Homo sapiens: one gene and its partners. The protein of the gene in region 3 purifies or fractionates together with the protein of the main gene of each other region. This does not show direct contact. Each region holds a gene or a part of one and is shown on either strand. Other genes may lie near its edges.

Region 1 (5,020 bases), on a different chromosome or scaffold from region 3:
TGAGGCTTGGCAACAACTTCTACTAATACTTAGCTTTGTGGCAGAGCCAGTCTGAAGGAGGAGAAGCGCTCTCAGCCAGCAGGGGGAGTGATGATTATCATTTCAGGTAGCAAGGATATGTATTTACTATGTGGGGAAATAATTTGCAACTTTAATTTGTTTCCAAAGCATTTTGATTGGCTTCCTTTTCCTTTAAACCAAAAAATTGTTTAAATGTTTAAGGGTCATGTGGAACAGCTGAGCTTCTGGCAGGACCACAGAACTGTCCTCTGAGTCTGAGGGCTGGGCAGTGCCACAGGACAGTCCCTGGGCTGCAGGACTGTCAGTGCTTGTTGTGTGAGGAAATGAGGCCCTTCAAAAACCCAGTCATCTTGACAGAGGGCACACTCCCAAGGAAGGCCTGACTGGGGAATCATACAGCCTCTCCTCCAGGCCTCTGGGCTCACTGAGGTGCCCCCAGAACCCTGATTGCCCTCCCCTCTTTCCCTTTTCTCATTCATCACACAGTAGAAGCACTCACTAGCTAACAGCTCAGCTGGGGCAGCAGCCTCCATGGAGGCCTGCAAGTGATGCTCCCAGTCCTGGTTCCCGCTCAGGAGGGAGGCCCCACCACGTGCATCACTGCCTCAGCTCTGCAAAGTCACCAGAGGCTTCTTCCTGATTTTTGTGAAAGATTTATTATATGGCAATAAATCTGAATGATAAACTTTCATTATACTTGCATTAATTTTGAGTATTAGTTTGCTTAGAAATTTTTACACGAAGTAAAAATGTGTAATGATGCAACACAGGATCATCGTGTGTTCAGATGGAAATTGGCATCTGATTTTACCCCAGATCTGAAGCTGTTACTGCATTGTGTCATTTTATCAACAAAGACTTCTGCCACAATATTTACTTTTAAAAGAATTTGTCCCTTTCAATAGCATCTTCCCTATCAAGAGTTCAAGGCACTTTGCAGAAGAGCTTCAGATTTCTAACTCTAGTTCCCACAGTCACCCGTTGAGGCTGGTGTCATACAATCTATGAACAACAACCTTGCAGCAGGACTGCCACCATTCAGCAGTGCAGACAACACAGCTCAAGGACAAAGACAGAGAAAGGAAAGAAGAGAAGGTCCCTGAAGGTGAAGCATAGAAAGTACACTGCACACACAGTTCTCTCTGGAAGGAAAGCACAGGAGCTGGGAAGTAGACGATAGAAAGTGGAAAGGACACAGGACCAGCATCAGAACACTCAGCAACTTCCTAAGAGCTTGCTAAGGTACATCCAAGAGAAATATTTAGTGAGGGAAACTTTTAAGCACTGGAATTGTTAATATATCATACTTTAAGCAACATTTCGTCCTTTAGATTCCGGGAGCCAGGGTTTTGCATTGGGTGGTAGAGCTCTCTGCATAATTGAGTCACCCTGTGCTTTTTTGCAGAGCCATAAATTTTTGGCACTTGCTGATACTTCATAGGCTGGAGTCTCTGCAAGGTCAACCCTTTGGGTCTCTTAATTCTTTCCTAGGCACTATCCTGCAATATCAGTAGTTGCCACTTGATTTTAGGGACTGATTATTAGGCCTTCTGACTCCAAATTCAGAACAATTCCAGTGTCCTACATCACCTCCTGGAGTCAAAGAGGTCAGTTTCTATTCAGTGATGAAGAGCTAAGCTAGCTATGCATATGAAGAACTGAGAAGTAGATTATAACACACAATCCACAGCAAATAATGCATATTTATTTTGTATGAATTAAAGCATAAAATTTAATCTCATTAGCGTATAGCTATTCAGAGTTCCCACTCAAAGCAAGGGAGACTCACCAGTAGCCCCAAGACCCTTGGCCAGGTCATACTCAACCCCTAATCTAACTTCACAAGGCTGTCTAAATGTCAGCTACTCAGACACAGCCTCTGGCATTAGCAAAATCCCCCAGAGGAAAAGCAGCCCCATAGAACTGGACAAGTAATACTTAACTATCTTGTTGACTCTGGGGTCCTTCAAGCAAATTTTAAAAATATTTTTACCAGATTTCCAAGTTGTCCTTAGCTTGAGGGTTGGTCCTCCATTACTGTCATTGGACTATCCCTCATGGGTAGTGCAGTTCAACTTCTAAACCACCTCAGTACCTGAATGTGGTCCGAGGTGAAACCAGATTACTGATGCCTTCAGGTGCCCAATTGAAGCAAATGGCAAATTCTGTGGAGGAAGTAAACATAACCCAAGGCCTCAAATTATTTCTGCAGTGTTGCAATCAGAAATACCCAGGTATGGGAGAAGACCAGACAACATTAATTACTTGAATTAAAACCATTAGAGGAAAACACAGACAATAGAAATATCCAAACAGACTCCAGATAAAGTTGTCGCAGAATTTAAAACAGCTATGGTTACTGTGTTCAAAAAAATGAGACGCATGGTCAAGAATTTCAACAGAGAGTTAGAAACTGTAAAAGGCGCATTGGAAATTCTATAACTAAAGTACTGTAATGAGAAGAACAGTGAACAGGTTTAAGAGCAGATTAGAAATAACTGAAAAGAGAATGAGTAAGATGAAAAATTGAGGGTGAGGGGTGGGAGCAGGAATTATATAGTAAAAAAAACAGAACATGGAGAATAGAGGGTAAGAGACTTAAAGGGTACAGTGAGCATGTCTGACCTGCTCAGACATGCAGGGTAGTTGGCATCTCAAAAGAGTAGAAGAAAGGAATATTTAAACAAATGGCTGAGAACTTTTCCAAAACTCATGAAAGATATCACACCAAAAATTCAAGAATCCCTCCCACAAACTCCAAGTGGGATAAATAAAAACAACCCACACCTAGAAACATCATAGTAAAACTGTTGAAGACCAAAGAAAAATAATATTTTAGACCTGCTGGGGTGGGAGAGGGAATATAACCATTAAAGGAGCAATAATATTAGACTGACAGCTCCTTCTCAGCAGAAACAATGGAAGACAGTGAAATACTGCCTTTTATGGTTCTGAAAGAAAATGACTGCCAACCTAAAAATTTCTAATCAGGGAAAATATCCTGCAAAAATGAAGAGGATATGAAGACATTTTTAGAGAAACAGCTAGAAGAATTAATCAGCACGCCTACCCTAAAGGAAAATTTAAAAGGTGTTTTACAGGCAGAAGGAAAATAATCCCAAACGTAAGGACAGAGCCCTAGGAAAGATTGAAGAGCAATGAAAATGACACATAAATATTGACTACATAAAACAATAATTATGTCTTATGGAGTTTTAAATATATAGAGAAATAAAATGTATGAAAATGAAAGGATTTATGTGGGAATTTTAAGTGTTCTAAGACACTTGGCATCATCCAAGAAGAGAGTAAAAATTCATTTAATATTAGTCTTTGATAACTCATGTATGCATGATAATATTTGAGATATCAATAAAAGTGTATAGCTTTCCACATAATAAGAGAGAATTCGAATAATCAATTCAGTGGAAGATTTAAGAATTGCAAAAGAGTCTAAGAAAGAAGAAAAAGCAGAACAGGTGGAACAAATAGAAAGCAAGATATTTGTGATAAATCCATTATTACACTAAATGTAAATGGACTAATGCTCAAATGTTGACAAATATTGTCAGCCTTGTTTTAAACCATATGCTATTTACAAGAGACATTTTTAGAACATGAATTTAGAAATTTTGGAAGAAAAAGATGGAGAAATACATACCCAGCAAACAGTAACCATGAGGAAACTGGTGTAGATATATTTAAGTAAACTTTAAGGCAATAATTTTTTTAAGAAATAAAAGGGTCAATTCAATTACTAGAAAGATAATCTAAATTTATATGCACTTAAAATATAAACTCAAAATATGTAAAAGAAAATTTGATAGGAAATTTAGACAAATATGCAACCAGAGTGATATTTTAACATGCCTATTTTGTTAATTGGTAGAAAAACTAGCATACAAAAATCAAGTTATAAAAGATTTAAGCAATGAAATGAGCAAACCAAACGGATGTATGTAGGACACCAAACTCAATAACATACTTTTCAAACACAAATGGCACACACTCCAAAATACTGGGCTATAAAGGTTTCAACAGGCTAGGCACAGTGGCTCACATCTGTAATACTAGCACTTTGAGAGGCCAAGTCAGGAAGATCACTTGAGCCCAGGAGTTTGAGACCAGCTTGGGCAACATAATGAGGCCCCACCTTTACAAAAAATAAAAAAATTAACTGGGCATGGTGGCATGTGCCTATAGCCCCAGCTACTTGGGAAGCTGAGGCAGGAGAATCACTTGTGCCCAGGAGGTCGAGGCTGCAGTGAGCTATAATTGCACTACTGCACTCCAGCTTGGGTGACAGAGCAAGACCCTGTCTCAGAAAAAAAGTCTCAACAAACCTGAAAATACTTCAAATGAAATATGTTCTCTGACCATAATAGAATCAAGACTAATTATTTACAAAAAGATAATTTTATAATCCTCATATTTTTGGAAATAGATTTCCAGGTAACCCATCTGTCAGAATCTTAATGGAAATTTGAAATATTTTGAACTGATCATGAAAATACTACATATCAAAACAGAGAAAAAACTTGTGGGATGCAAATAAAACTATGCTTAGAAGACCTTTTAATTTTATTTTAAATTTAAAGAGTACCTGTTCAGGTTTGTTACAAGAATATATTGATGATGCTGAGGTTTGGGCTCCTAATGATCCTGTCACCCAGATAGTGAACATAGTACCCAATAGAAAGTTTTTCAGCACTTGCTTCCCTCTCTCCTTCCCTTCCTCCCTCGTTTTGGAGTCCCTAGTGTCTATTGTTCATATATATATATACACACACATATATATTTAAATGTTTATGTTAGAAAAGAAGAAAGGTTAAAAATCAATTAAGCAATTACCTCAAAAATTTTAAAAACAGCACATGAAACCCAAAAATAAGCCAAATTACTGATATAGAACACAAATATACAATAAAGGGAATCAAAGTCAAAAGTTGGTTATTTAAAAGGATTAAGAGGACTCATTGGCTGGGCATGTTGGCTCACA
Region 2 (5,020 bases), on a different chromosome or scaffold from region 3:
TAAACTGATTAGTAAAAGAAATTTCATTTTATAACAATTTAGACTTTAAAAATATTAAATACACAGAATGACCACAAATTTCAATTATTAAATTTACAAGAACAAAAAACTACAAGTAAAGCCAAAACAGATCTCAAATTTGTATATGATTCTTTTTACCTTGTAAAAAATAATCCAGAAAGCAGTTCAAGATCAGCCTAGGCAATATAGTGAAACCCCATCTCTATAAAAAATTTAAAAATTTAGCTGGGTGTGGTGACACACACCTACAGTCCCAGCTACTTGGGAAGCTGAGGTGGGAGGATTGCTTGAGCTCAGGAGTGAGACTGCAATGAGCTGTGCTCATGCCACTACACTCCAGCCTGGGTGACAAAGCGAGACTTTGTCTCAAAAATAATAATAGTCCAGGAAGGGACATAGGGAAATTTGGGGGATGATGGAAATATTCACTACCTTGACTGTGATGATTACACAAGTTATTTATTTATTTATTTATTTGAGACAGGGTCTTGCTGTCACCCAGGCTGGAGTGCAGTGGTGCGATCTCGGCTCACTGCAACCCCTGCCTCCCAGGTTCAAGCGATTCTCCTGCCTCAGCCGCCTCAGTAGCTGGGATTACAGGCGCATGCCCCCATGCCTAGATAATTTTTTGTATTTTTAGTAGAGACAGGGTTTCACCATGTTGACCAGGCTGGTCTTGAACTCCTGACCTCAAGTGATCCACCTGCCTGAGATCTGCAAGCCTGGGATTACAGGCTTGAGCCACCATGCCCGGCCTACACATGTAATTTAAAAGATAAGGAAAGCCAAGTGTTGGAGATGGTTGGGGGAATGGGGCTTCTCTGTGATAAAAATATTCTAAAGTTGTTTGAATTAACTTTTAAGATGTTAAAACTTCATTTCAGAAATGTTGATAAGGATCACTTTAGATTACCTATGTTAAAGTGCTTCATAAATTCTAAAGCACTACACATGTAGAAACTTTTATAGTTTTAAAAAATGATGCTAAAAACAAATTTCAGGAAAAAAATTTTTAAAGAAAAAATATAGCAAAGAGAATATTAAAAATTAATTTTAGAAATGCTGGTGGTTGTACAACTCTGTGAATAAACTAATAAACTGAATTGTACACTTCAAATTTATGAATTGCATAATATAGCTCAAATATGTAAAAAATTATTTTAGTTTTCCTCCTTTATTCATATGTTCAGTATTATCAAGCTGTATATATGTTTCGACATTTCATATACATGATCACTTTCAGCCATTATGGCAAAAACACCACAAAAATACAAAATACAGCCCCATGAAGTCAGAAGACCTTCTAAGATTGCTGTTTCAGGTTCTTATTAGCAATATGGTCTCAGGTAAGCATTTACTTTTCTAAGCCTCCCTTTGCCCATTCAACAAATTAGATTTCTTATCCTATATAGTAGCCATTTGAGGATCACATTAGATTACCTATGTTGAAGTTCTTTATAAATTCTAAAACACTATACATATAAAAATTTTTATAGTTTTTAAAAACGATAACATTGAAAATGTTAAAAATTAATTTTAGAAATGTTCTTTACAGGCTAACCTGCAGCAATAATTTTATTTATTTATTTTTTTAAGACAGGATCTCACTCTGTCGCCCAGGCTTGAGTGCAGTGGCACAATCATATCTCACTGCATCCTCGGCCTCCTGGGCTCAAGCAATGTTCTCACCTCAGCCTCCCACGTAGCTGAGACTACAGGCGCATGCCACCACACCCAGCTAAGTTTTAAAAGTTTTGTACAGACACAGTCTCACTATGTCACCAAGGCTGGTTTTGAACTCCTGGCCTCAAGTGATCCTCTTGCCTCAGCCTACTGGGAGGGTAGCTGGGATTAGAGGCACAAGCCACTCCAGCTTTTGGACTGCATCTTCTAAATGTCTTACAAGTGAAACAAAATATGAGACGATAGCATCAAAACTCACTGTGAACTCAAGGTGAACAAAACATGTGCAGTATCCAAGAGCAGGGCCTCCCCACTCCGACCCATGCTTCCGTTCTGCCAGTCCAACATGGCAAGTGTCCCCTGACAGAGGAATAAGACAGCTGACTGAGAGATGTCACCACAACAGAGGCTCCTGCAGCTGCTCATAAACCACTCGGGGACACTGGTGCAGTCCACTGAACGAAGCAGCACACTGCTAATCTGGAAAAATATAGCAGAGCTAACACACATAAAGCTTTTAAAACTTTTCAGAGATATTTCAAAATACAAACCCAAACATCTCTTTCCCCTGAAAAATCCTAGGAAAAATGACTAAATCCAAAGATAAAATACCCACAAATGTCATGATTATTGTATTAGTATTAAAGGAAAAAAATTACATCAAGTACGAGAATGATTTTGCTGGTTGGAATGTACTGGCAGAGCACAACACATCGCCACCTGCAGGTGGATAAGCTTAACAACTGCTTTTTTTTTTTGGTATGTATTTTTTTTTTAAACAAATGCTTTTAGAGGTGATTTGAGAAATAAACATCTTCGACTTATCCAAAGATAATTACTTTGTGTGATCTCATAATATATTTTTCTAAGGTCAGGTAAAAAGATAAAATAAGTTTCCATACAATATAGCAAGCAAAAAAAGAAATCTACTAGTAAAAAATACAAGGATTGTGGCCTAAATTATCAAATTATACTTTCTGTAAGAAGCAAATTTACTGAACAATTGACTCTATCTAGCATGCTTCCTGTCTAAAGCACATGATTTGGGTTATTCTCAATAAAGAATACATTTATCAGAAAAGTTATTACTGTGTATATATCTATACATTGATATGCATAATTTTAACATTAAAAATATCTTTTAAGATACTAATGAGAGATGACACTGAACAAACAGCACTAAAAAGAAACTAAAAGAATGTACATCAAAAATGTTTATAGTGATTATCTTTGTGAGATGGACTTACAGGTGACTGTTATTGTCTTTTTGTTATTGTTGCTTTATCTGAATTTTTGGAATTGTCTCTTATTATAACAGAAAAAGGTCATCAGAAGGAACCAGACAATGCAAAAAAAAATTATTTTAATTCACTTCTTTAAAAATATTTTTAATTTTTTTTTTTTTTAAGAGACAAGGTCTCACTCTGTTGCCCAGACTGGTGCAATCTTATCTCACTGCAGCCTTAAACTCCTAGGCTCAAGCGATCCTCCTACCTCAACCTCTCAAAGAGCTGGGACTACAGCTGTGCACCACCATACCCAGCAAATTTTCTTTTTTTTTTTTTGTAGAGACAAGGTCTAGCTAAACTCCCCAGGCTAATCTCAAACTCCTGGCCTCAAGTGACCCTCCTGCCCTGGCCTCCCAAAGTGTTGGGATTATAAGTGTGAGCCACTGCACCAAGCCAAAATTATTTTTTAAACATACCCTAACTCTCAATAAAGTACAATTCTAAAAAGGAGATGCACTTACCAAATGAGGAATCTTTTCAGACGGGTGAAACATAGTCTTAATAAAAAGAATAATAGCTAATCCAGATGTGCTCTGTACAGTCTGTAACAGATCATCTATTTGGCAAAAAAGGAGAGAAGCTTGTGTTAAATAATGAATATTCTGGTAGAGTGGAAAGAGCAGATGCTGAGCAGCCAGATAGGCCTGGGTACAATTTCTAGTCTGACCACTTCCTGGGTGAATAGGTCTTACCTAAGTTATTTAACATCCCACAGACTCTCTTTTCTCTTGGGTAAAATGGGATAACTCTTAACTGAGGCAGTGTCAGGTTTAGATGAATAATGAACATAAACGCTTTTTAGAAGGAGTCTCACTCTGTTGACAGGCTGGAGTGTAGTAGCGTGACCTCAGCTCACTGCAACCTCTACTTCCTGGGTTCAGGCGATTCTCCTGCCTCAGCCTCCCAAGTAGCTGGGACTACAGGCGCGTGCCACCACACCCAGCTAATTTTTGTATCTTTAGTAGAGATGGGGTTTCACCACGTTGGCCATGATGGTCTCGATCTCTTGACCTTGTGATCCGCCTGCCTCGGCCTCCCAAAGTGTTGGGATTACAGGCATGAGCCACTGTGCCCGGCTGAATATAAAGGCTTTTAAGCCCAGCATATAGATACTCAATAAACGTGATTCCTTCCTCTCTCCTCTAACATACACTTTCTTCCTCGCCAACTATTGCTTCCCAAAACACCTAACAGCAACACCACCTGTCCCCTCCCCTCCACCAATGCCTCTGTATCCCAATCACCATATACACAGACTTTTTCAAAAAGAGATTTCAGGGCTTGTATAAAGAATGTAGGTAAGTGCTAATTACAAACTTTGCTAGCACTGACACTGTACCCATAGCAACCAAACAGTTTTGACTTGGTATCTTCTTTTTGTTTTATCTCTATTAGCCTCTAATACCATGGTGAGTTGTTCAACCTGGGGAAAGAAGTAACACTTCTTTATGACATCATAAACTACGTACTAAATATCCACTCTGCCCTTCATCACTGATAAGAAAACTGTGACTTTGATTGGGGAAGCCACATGCCCAGCCAAAAGCAGGATACTTGCTTCTTCAATCTTCTTTGCAACTAAAGGTAGGCATATAAGAGGGTTCAGGCCAGTTGGATTTAAGCCAGTCACTTGAGTATCCTGATCAAAAGTAAAGACGCAACTGGCCTTCCTTCTTCCTGCCTTGAATAAAGACACATCTGGAGCTACAGCAGTCATATGGCAACCACGAGGCAACAAACGTGGGTGAAAACCAACCTGCTGAAGATGGCACAGCAGAAAAGCAGAAAATGTGTGGGTCGTACACTGCCTATACCAGTTCTGGATGACCTGCCTCTGAACTTGTTATGTGGGAAAGGAGGTTTGGTTTTCAGTTACTTGCAGCTAAACACTTTACTGATTATGAAGCTTTAAAATGCTGGAAAAGAATAGTACTGATTAGGTGCCATCAACTTTTCGGAAAAAAAGCTACTTCTTTTTTTTTTTTTTTTTTTGAGACGGAGGCTTGCTCTGTTGCCAGGCTGGAGTG
Region 3 (5,356 bases):
TCAAGTTCCGAGAGCTAACTATGAGAGAGCCTTGACTGAAACCTTTGTCTCTACACCCATAAACTGTTGTTCTTCATTGGTCCAACAGTTTACCTGGACCCCTGCCTTAGTAGCCCCAGCTTGATTTGGTTTAGGCTCCTGTGACTTTCGTGGAAGGAGGACAACCAAAAGTGCATGTTCCATATTAGGAGTCAGGATTCCTGGACCCTAGAAGTGTGTTGCATGTGAGGGTATCAATCTGTCCACCCCAACTGTGGTTCTTTCTGCCCTTAATATCTTCAGATTTTACTTTGTTCTCTCAAACCATGGACTTGGGGGAGGGAGGGGACAACATGCAGCCAGAGCATTAAGGTCAGCATGACTCACATTCCATCCCCAGTGCCACCCCAGTGCCCACACCGCTACTTCCCCCAGCCCCACCTCAAGTAGACAGGAATATCTCATGAATAATAAATGTCTCATTCTTCACTTTTCTTCCTAAGCTTTGGGGGAAAGGGAGGGTGAAGATCCCTGGGTCTCTACTCCCTGGTCAGGGGTCTCTGGATTCCCAGTCCTGCCTTGTGTCCTCAACTGGGAAGCCAGAAAGGAAACGCAGAGAACCAGCGTCACCTGGTGGCCACAGGTGCTTTAAGGATGTGTGTAAGCACGCACATTGTGACAGGATTTGGTCATTCTGGAGGGAAGGAATGGTATGGTTTCCTAGCCTGGCCCCTGAGCCCTTTTAACTAGAGTCTTTGTTTTCCTGCTTTCTTTTTCTTTTCTTTTTTTTTTGTTTGAGACAGAGTCTCGCTCAGCCACCCAGGCCGGAGTGCAGTGGCGCGATCTCGGTTCACTGCAACCACTGTCTCCTGGGTTCAAGCGATTCTCCCGTCTCAGCCTCCCGAGTAGCTGGGATTACAGGCACCCGCCATCATGCCCGGTTAATTTTTGTATTTTATTTTATTTATTTATTATTATTATTTTGAGACAGAGTTTCACTCTTGTTGCCCAGGCTGGAGTGCAATGGCGTGATCTCGGCTCACTGTACCCTCCACCTCCCGGGTTCAAGCGATTCTCCTGCCTCAGCCTTCTGAGTAGCTGGGATCACAGGCATGCGCCACCATGCCGGGCTAATTTTTCTATTTTTAGTAGAGATGGGGTTTCTCTGTGTTGGTCAGGCTGGTCTCGAACTCCTGACCTCAGGTGATCCACCTGCCTCTGCCTCCCACAGTGCTGGGATTACAGGCATGAGCCACCGTGCCTGGCCCATAATTTTTGTATTTTAGTAGAGACGGGGTTTCACCACGTTGGCCAGGCTGGTCTTGAACTCCTGACCTTAGGTGATCTGCCCACCTCCGCCTCCCAAAGTGCTAGGATTACAAGTGTGAGACACCCCACCAGGCCTGTTCTCTTGCTTTCATAAGTCCAGATGACAAATGCAAGGCAACTGAGGGCCTGGGACTCAGGTGAATTAGCCCCATGGGCAGGACCCTGCCAGGGCAGCTGGAACCTTTTTCTGCCTTTGCCTTAACTAAGCTCAGTTCCATTTCTACAGACCAAGGAGTCCTCCTCCATGACCATTCCCTTCGCACAGAGTGAGGGCTGGGGGACTGGTCCCACTGGAGTAGATATCAAAGCTGGATTATAAAACTTTTTTGAGCTGAATAAACTTGTTTGTAGGGATGGCGGATCCTGGCAGCAGTGGTTAGGGGCAGAGGCCATTTCTGGGAAATTAAACAAAAAGGCAGGCTAATCCTCTTAAATCACCTCACATGTTTTATTACCTAGAAACCCCTCTTCTAAAGGCTATGTCCCAGGCCAGCTGCTTCCTGCTCCTGCTTTGACCTAGGTACCCCTGAATCCTTAGGTATTAGGTTCCAGCTCCTGGTGGCCACAGGTGCTTTAGGGATATGTGTGAGCATGCACATGGTGACAGGATTTCGTCATGCAGGAGGGATGGAATAGTATGGTCTCCTCCTAGCCTGGCCCCTGAGCCTAACCGTGACCTGTTTCCTTCTTCCCCAGAGACCACACCTGAGCATTAAAAGCACAGAATTCATTTATTAATAATTAATAATACTCCTTGGGCAGTCTAGGGCTGAAACATTGATCAAGTGATGGAGAGACTTGATTTGGGAGGCTGGGGAGAGATTGTTGTGAAAATGCCCACATGTGTTATTTCACCTATTCTCCTATTACCTGGCCACTTTGGTCCTGGAGGAGACAGTCCTGAATTCTGGTGACTAGGGTCACAGTTCTAATGGAGCCTATGGAAACTCCGGGGCCCTCTTTTTAAAATGGAGCCATATGCTTGGCGGAATTGGCGGTTCATGGCTGCATAGAGCACAGGGTTGATGCAACCATTGAGCCAGGTGAGGTTGGCAGCAAGCATGTGGACCACCCGGGGAGCCTGGACTCTGGCATCCAGAATGTTGAGCAGCAAGAAGGGGATGTAGCTCAGGGCAAAGCAGAGGAACACAGCAAAACACATTCGAGTCACCTTCCCAAATTCCGATGAAGAATCCGGAGCTCTTCTGGCTCCTTTAATTGGCTGGGCTTTGGCAGATGCTTCTGGAGGGCTTTTCTCTGCCATCTGCTTAGCTCTCTTGCTGTTGATCTGGTCTCCCACTTCTGATGAGTCCCCTTCCAGGGTCTGGGTGGTGGCAGCACTGACTGGCTCAGATGAAATCCCCTCACTGGGTCCTCCTGATGCTAACCTGCTGTCCAGCTCCTGGAAACGACCAGGCATGGCCTCATCAGTCCTGGCCACATGGTTGGAGTGGATGCTTGCCTGTCGCAACTTGTATTGGTCCAGTGCCTGTGCTGCTCGTTTGACCTGGCGGTGGATGAGGCAATAGAAGATGCCAACACTGCTGAGCCCAAGCACAAAGTAGATGCCCATGAGGATGGTGGTGTAAGGCCGGCCTCGGATGCGGTCAAAGCTGCAGGTGCAGACTACAGGTACCAGGATATAAATAGGCCAGAGGGGAGCAAAGCTGGCCACGCCCACAACCCAGGTGCTCACCAGTGCCAGCACTATCCCCTTGGCACTGAAAACTTGGGGAAAAAGCTTAGGGTGGGCAATGAGGAGGTAGCGTCCCAGTGCGATGAGGCAGAGGGTCAGGATGGAGACAGAATTGGAGGCAAAAAGGAGGAGCCCAAATACCCTGCAGAAGGTGGCACCGGTGCGCCAGTGCAGGTGGAGGTAGGTGTCCACAGAGAAGGGCTGAAGGAGCGTGCAGTAGAGGAGATCAGCCAGTGTGAGGTTGGCTATGAGCAGGTTGAATCGGGTACGGAGCTTGGGCTGGATGGCCAAGGCCAGTAGGGTGAGCACATTGCCCACGGTGCCTGTCACAGCCACCACCACCCCCCAGCTAACTGCAACATAACGATAGCCCAGCACAGACTCATGGTAGCAGGAGAAGTTGGCGTCAGAGCTGTTCCACATGATAGAGGCTAAAGAGGCAGAGGGTGGAAGAGGAAGAGGGAATCAGAACCTAGCATTCAACTTAGATCTCTTGAACAGTTCTGGGACCCTGGACATCTAAACTGTTCCTGGACCTCACCTTAATTCAGTATCCTCCTGAACCATTCCCAGGCCTCTTCATCTCAAGATCCCTAACTCTCTCCTTAGGTTCTCTTAGTCCTTTCCCATTCTCAAATATTTCCCCAAGTTTTTATCTAAATATCTCTTGCCTAAATATCTTAGTCTTATTCTGCTCCAAACCTCAGTCCTCTTCTATATCCATCCCGCTGCTCTCAGTAAACCCAGTGCCCTCCAACTTTTTTAATTCCTTCCCCATCCCCAAAGACCCCCAGGAGTCCCCTCTCTCTATTCAGCATCGTGTATTCAGGATCCTCTCTGTATTCAGTTCCCTCTGCTCCTTTCCACTACACACACATATAGGCTTTAGTCATTTCTGTTTGTTACCACCTGGGAGATGAGGAGACCAAGAAGGTAAAAGTATACCCACAACAAAAGTGCTTACCTGAGTTTCTCAGCCTTCAATTCTTTCTATAATGGAAGAAGTTCAACTCACCCAAAGAGCAGTCCTTTCTGGTGGACAGTTAGGCTTCAAGCAGGAGACATCCTGCTCTTATGTATCCTATTATAGTCCACTGAAAGAATAAGAAACTCCCCCATTACCCAATCCCAGCCACTTCCTTCACCACCTCCGGTCCTACTCATTTTGCTTCGGCTAGTGAAATCTAGGCTTCTCTGTTGAAAGTCCCCCGCTACTTACCTCAGAGTGGTTTCACTCTTCCTTTCTCCTTCCTGAAACCCAAACTCTGTTTTCTTCCCCTCTTTGCATGGCAGAACTCATCTGTAAGATCATTGCCAAGAATTGCTAGGGCACGGAGTCAGAGCATCAGAACATTTGGGCCACTCCTCAAAGGGCCAAAAGATAAGACCAAGTTCCAGGAGCAACTTTAGGTACCCCCAGAAGCCTTGGGTTTGTTTCAGAGGAGCACTACCTTTCTTGTCTCCACGGCTTAGACATGGTTCAAGTCAGAGGGACCCATGTGACACCCTAGCACATTTGAGAAACCAAGTCAGATGAAGAAAAGTGGGGAATGAGGCATCCAGAATTCTGGTTTCATTCTCCTCAAGGGATCAGGGTCCTGTTCAATCATTCATTTATCCATTTACCCAACAACTTAGTACTGAGTGCCTACTATACACCAGACTCTGATCTAGACACTGGGGATACAAGAACGTCTGATATATGGCCTTGTGCATAGTCTACTAGGGGAGACAGATACATAAATATGCAAATGCTTAATCGATTCTCCAGAGCAAGGGTGAGTAAACTTCACCCTATGGGCCAAATCTAGTCTGCTGTTTTTGTATAGCCTGTGACCCAATCATGTTTTTTTTCCATTTAAAAATGGTTATATTTTAGGCCAGGTGCAGTGGCTCACGCCCATTATCCCAACATTTTGGGAGGCCAAGGAGGGCAGATCACTTGAGGTCAGGAGTTCGAGACCAGCCTGGCCAACATGGTAAAACCCCGTCTCTACTAAAAATACAAAAATTAGCCAGGCGTGATGGGTGCGCCTGTAATCCCAGCTACTAGGGAGGCTGAGGCAAGAGAATCGCTTGAACCCGGGAGGCGGAGGTTGCTTGCAGTTAGCCAAGATCACATTGCACCACTGCACTCCAGCCTGGATGACAGAGCAAGACTCCGTCTCAAAAAATAAAATAATAAATAAATAAGTAAGTAAAATAAAAATGGTTATATTTTAAATTGTTATATAAGTGCCTATGTAATATCCTCAGTTTTATCTCTTGATTAACACAGTTTAAAATATTTATAATCAGGCCCTTTGAGAAAAAGTTTGCTGAGGCTTGCTTTAAAATACTATATAGGCCTGG
Region 4 (4,374 bases), on a different chromosome or scaffold from region 3:
TATCCACACTGACTTAACCAAAATTGATCAAAGATGAATTGAGCTTTTCTTTGAAGTAATAAAACTTTTAGAATGCTATTATTATTGCTAAAAACTCATTTTAAAGTATATTTTACTACTGTTATCAATAAACTCATGTGGCCAGGTCATACAGCCCTCTACTTGAATATGTATAATGGGATCGGTTTTGGAAATATATATATACTCATGTGCATATATGCATGGAGAAAAGTTTGGGTTATATCCCAGAAGTGTTTCTCTCTCATTAAACCTTATATTAAGATTTTCCTACAGTAAGAATTTTTTTTTTTAAAAAGCCTCACTGACATAACTGGTGTTACAGCCCCAACCCTTTACACAGCAAAAATTTCATCACTGGCTAATACTTACTATGCTTTGCCAGGGGTCTTTGCTTCATTGGCGCTGATAATGAATAAAGGAAAGAGGATAGAGAAAAGGCAGCCACTGTTTAAAAAAAAAAAAAAGAAATAATTAGTCACCTTCATAACAGACATGACTTTGAAGAAGATATTAGAAGCTCCAAGTTCTTTTGCTTCCAGTGTAAACATTATGGCTTGATGAAACCTCAATATTTCAAACATTTTTTTTTTTGAGATGGAGTCGCGTTCTTGTCGCCCAGGCTGGAGTACAGTGGCAAGATCTCAACTCACCGCAACCTCCGCCTCCTGTGTTCAAGCGATTCTCCTGCCTCAGCCTCCCAAGTAGCTGGGATTACAGGTGTGTGCCACCACGCCTGGCTAATTTTTGTATTTTCAGTAGAGATGGGATTTCACCATGTTGGCCAGGCTGGTCTCGAACTCCTGACCTCAGGTAATCTGCCCACCTCAGCCTCCCAAAGTGCTGGAATTACAGGCGTGAGCCGTGGCACCCAGCCCATCAAACACATCTTTCAAAAAGAACAGAAGATTTTTCTAAGCACTGGGCATGTTTAACATTGCTGCAGGGCTGGGCATGGTAGCTCATGTCTATAATCTGAGCACTTTGGGAGGCCAAGGTGGGTGGATCACTCGATGTCAGGAGTTCAAGACCAGCCTGGCCAACATAGTGAAACCCCATCTCTACTAAAAACACAAAAATTAGCTAGGCGTGATGGTGGGCGCCTGTAATCCCAGCTACTTGGGAGGCTGAGGCAGGAGAATCAGTTAAACCCAGGAGGCGGAGGTTGCAGTGAGCTGAGATTACACCACTGCACTCTAGCCTGGGCGACAGAGTGAGACTCTGTCTCAAAAAAAAAAAAAAAAAAAAAAAAAAAGAATAATTGCTTCAGGAGGCAACATAGAAAAAGAATATGGGATATAGGGACATTCAGACTAGATCTTCATGCTAACAAATGTAGAAATACCCTGCAGGTCTCCTGATGGACAAATGATGATGTAGAATGCGAAACAGAACGAAGCAAACAAAAGGCACTGACTTCATGAATTTTTATTTTTACTAGTCTCCTTCAAATCCCTGTAGCCAAATTACCTGATAATATATGAGGACTGCATTGCTGTGAGAAAAGCCAAGGGCAAACCAAACCCAAAGTAGTAAGGCCAATTCCTTTCTATGTTAGACAACCGCTGGTGCATTTCAATTCCTAAAACAAGAAAGCCAATACAATTAGATATTATATTTCCTTTTAGTCAAGTGACTAAGTAACTATGGTAGACAAACCATGAGTTTTAGGTACAGATTTTATTATTATTATTATTATTATTATTATTATTATTTGAGATGGAGTCTTGCTTTGATGCCCAGGCGGGAGTGCGGTGGTGCAATCTCAGCTCACTGCAACCTCCACCTCCTGGTTTCAAGCGATTCTCCCACCTCAGCCTCCCAAGTAGCTGGGATTACAGGCGCCTGCCACCTCGCCCAGCTAATTTTTGTATTTTTAGTAGAGACAGGGTTTCACCATATTGGCCAAGCTGGTCTTGAACTCCTGACCTCAGGCGATCCACCCACCTTGGCCTCCCAAAGTGTTGGGATTACAGGTGTGAGCCACCACACCCAGCCTAGGTACAGATTTAGAACAGAGCTACAGCATATAAATTAGAAGTGTACAAATCTGATATAAAGCATGCAAAGTTTCTTAGAATTCTATAATCGTAATTTCAAAGCTGACAGGCTAAGTGAATTAAGAATTTCAGCACCAGCATCCTTTGTCAGGATTAGTCTGGAACTAAGCAAGATAGCAAATCAAAAGGATGCCATCCTGTAAGTATCAGTTAACCTCTTTCAACCACGCACACCCTGGTAAATATCTGAAGGTCTTTCTAAAACACCCCCAAAAGGATCCAGATGCTGACATCAATTTGACTTCTCTAATTTAGAGCAACTCATGCTCATTTATGCCATCTTACAACCCAGTCAGAGATATACCATGTTAAGCACCAAAAAGATAATGCCATACTACCACATCCCCCAGCCTCAAAGTTGAGAGTTAAACCCACTAAGCCGAAGGTAAGCTCCCTCTTGCCAATGAGGCTGCTTCCCTCAAAGGATTGTTTGCCAAAAGCCTGACTATGAGTAGTTTAAGAAGTCTGCTTAGCAGTAGCATTTCCAAACTGGGCCTCCATTTTCTGGATTTCTTTAGATGGACTTACCTTTATTGAACCAACGATATTCAAAGCAGTACAGTGAGTAGAGAAGGGACATATGCAGGAGACTAACCAGCTGACCGACAAGATGGATGGGAAAGAGACTCACAAACATTCCCTGAAGAACAAATATGGAAAATCTTAATCCCAAAGCCTCGGAAACCTAGCACCATTCACCTGTCACTCTCCAATCACTGTCTGAGATAGCTTCCTAGCTGCTTCTCAAGTTTCTAAAAGGCCGAGTGCAGGGTGGGCACAGTGACTCATTCCTGTAATCCCAACAGTTTGGGAGGATGAGGCGGGAGGATCTCTTGAGGCCAAGAGTTAAAGACCAGACTGGGCAACATACTGAGACCCTGTCTCTACAACAAGATTTTTAAAATGAGCATGATGGCATGTGCCTGTAGTCCCAGCTACTCAGGAGGCTAAGGCAGGAGGATTGCTTGAGCCCAGAGTTTGAGGCTGCAGTGAGGTATGATTGTGCCACTGTACTCCAGCCTAGGTGGCAAAATAAGACCCTGTCTTTTATTTATTTATTTATTTTTGAGACAGTTTTGCTCTTGTCGCCCAGGCTGGAGTGCAATGGCGCGATCTCGGCTCACTACAATCTCTGCCTCCTGGGTTCAAGCGATTCTCCTGCCTCAGCTTCCCGAGTAGCTGGGATTACAAGCATGTTGCCACCACGCGCAGCTAATTTTTGTATTTTTAGTAGAGATGGGGTTTCACCATGTTGGCCAGGCTGGTCTCAAATGCCTGACCTTAGGTGATCCGCCCACCTCGGCCTCCCAAAGTGCTGGGATCACAGGCATGAACTACTGCGCCCAGCCGACCCGTCTGTCTCTTTAAAAAAAAAAAAAAATTAGGCATAACTATAAAAAGAAAAAAAGTTTCCACCTGGCAGGACTGGAGAATAACCAGAGTAGCAGAAAAAAGCAGGTAAATTCATGTTTCTTATAATTTTATAATGTAATTTTAAAATTCTCATTTCCGTGGGGAAAAAAAGATTTAAAAATCATTACCTCCCACCAGCATATATATAATACTCTGTATAAATATAATACTCTGTCTTTGTGAAGTTCTCTCTAGTGAAACAGTTTTTCTTTTTAATAAAGCTGCCCATATGCCCAGAAGGTCAGTCTCACCTGAATGAGGAAAAGAGCCTGCAGCAAAAGGTTGAAGAGCATGTCAGCAATTATTTTGCTGACACTAGGGAATGGGTGAGGCTTCCTCCCTGATACCTCAAATGCCAGGTCAGCTATATCCTGTAACAGAGAAAGTGTACCAAAACATGAATTAAATGGCCTTGATATACATCCCCAAAGCTAAGGCCACTAGTCCGCCACTAGAGCTGCCAGTTAAGAAAAGGCTTATTTAAAAATAAGCTGGGCACGATGGCATGTGCCTATAGTCCCAGCTACTCAGGAGGCTAAGGTAGGAGGATTGCTGCCTTATGCCGTGGCTCACGCCTATAATCCCAGCACTTTGGGAGGCCGAGGCAGGCAGATCAGCAGGTCAGGAGTTTGAGACCAGCCTGGCCAACATGGTGAAACCCTGTCACTAATAAAAATACAAAAAAAATTAGCCAGGCATGGTGGCACGTGCCTGTAGTCCCAGCTACTTGGAAGGCTGAAGCAGGAGAATTGCTTGAACCCGGGAGGCAAAGGTTGCAGTGCACTCCAGCCTGGGCGACAGAGTGAGACTGTCTCAAAAAAAAAAAAAAAAAAAAAAAAGCCAAAACGAAAAAGAAAAGGCACCAGACACCTGCCAATGAGAT

The links. Proteins that work in one complex are often made in the same cells at the same time.
Region 1: the proteins of GPR84 (region 3) and DYM purify together in Homo sapiens (affinity purification with mass spectrometry; one large-scale study listed by BioGRID and IntAct). This does not show direct contact.
Region 2: the proteins of GPR84 (region 3) and THADA purify together in Homo sapiens (affinity purification with mass spectrometry; one large-scale study listed by BioGRID and IntAct). This does not show direct contact.
Region 4: the proteins of GPR84 (region 3) and EI24 purify together in Homo sapiens (affinity purification with mass spectrometry; one large-scale study listed by BioGRID and IntAct). This does not show direct contact.

What each region holds. Positions count from the first base shown.
Region 1 is NC_000018.10:49,037,166-49,042,185, reverse strand, and holds part of DYM (dymeclin), read left to right. Parts: 3' UTR 1-5,020. UniProt on the Homo sapiens protein: Necessary for correct organization of Golgi apparatus. Involved in bone development.
Region 2 is NC_000002.12:43,575,059-43,580,078, forward strand, and holds part of THADA (tRNA (32-2'-O)-methyltransferase regulator THADA), read right to left. Parts: intron 3,550-5,020; coding exon 3,455-3,549; intron 2,185-3,454; coding exon 1,964-2,184; intron 1-1,963. UniProt on the Homo sapiens protein: Together with methyltransferase FTSJ1, methylates the 2'-O-ribose of nucleotides at position 32 of the anticodon loop of substrate tRNAs.
Region 3 is NC_000012.12:54,360,425-54,365,780, forward strand, and holds GPR84 (G-protein coupled receptor 84), read right to left. Parts: upstream 4,063-5,356; 5' UTR 3,969-4,062; intron 3,436-3,968; 5' UTR 3,428-3,435; coding exon 2,237-3,427; 3' UTR 2,021-2,236; downstream 1-2,020. UniProt on the Homo sapiens protein: G protein-coupled receptor that responds endogenously to dietary fatty acids or nutrient, specifically medium-chain free fatty acid (FFA) with carbon chain lengths of C9 to C14.
Region 4 is NC_000011.10:125,578,437-125,582,810, reverse strand, and holds part of EI24 (etoposide-induced protein 2.4 homolog), read right to left. Parts: intron 3,863-4,374; coding exon 3,743-3,862; intron 2,719-3,742; coding exon 2,607-2,718; intron 1,601-2,606; coding exon 1,489-1,600; intron 466-1,488; coding exon 391-465; intron 1-390. UniProt on the Homo sapiens protein: Acts as a negative growth regulator via p53-mediated apoptosis pathway. Regulates formation of degradative autolysosomes during autophagy.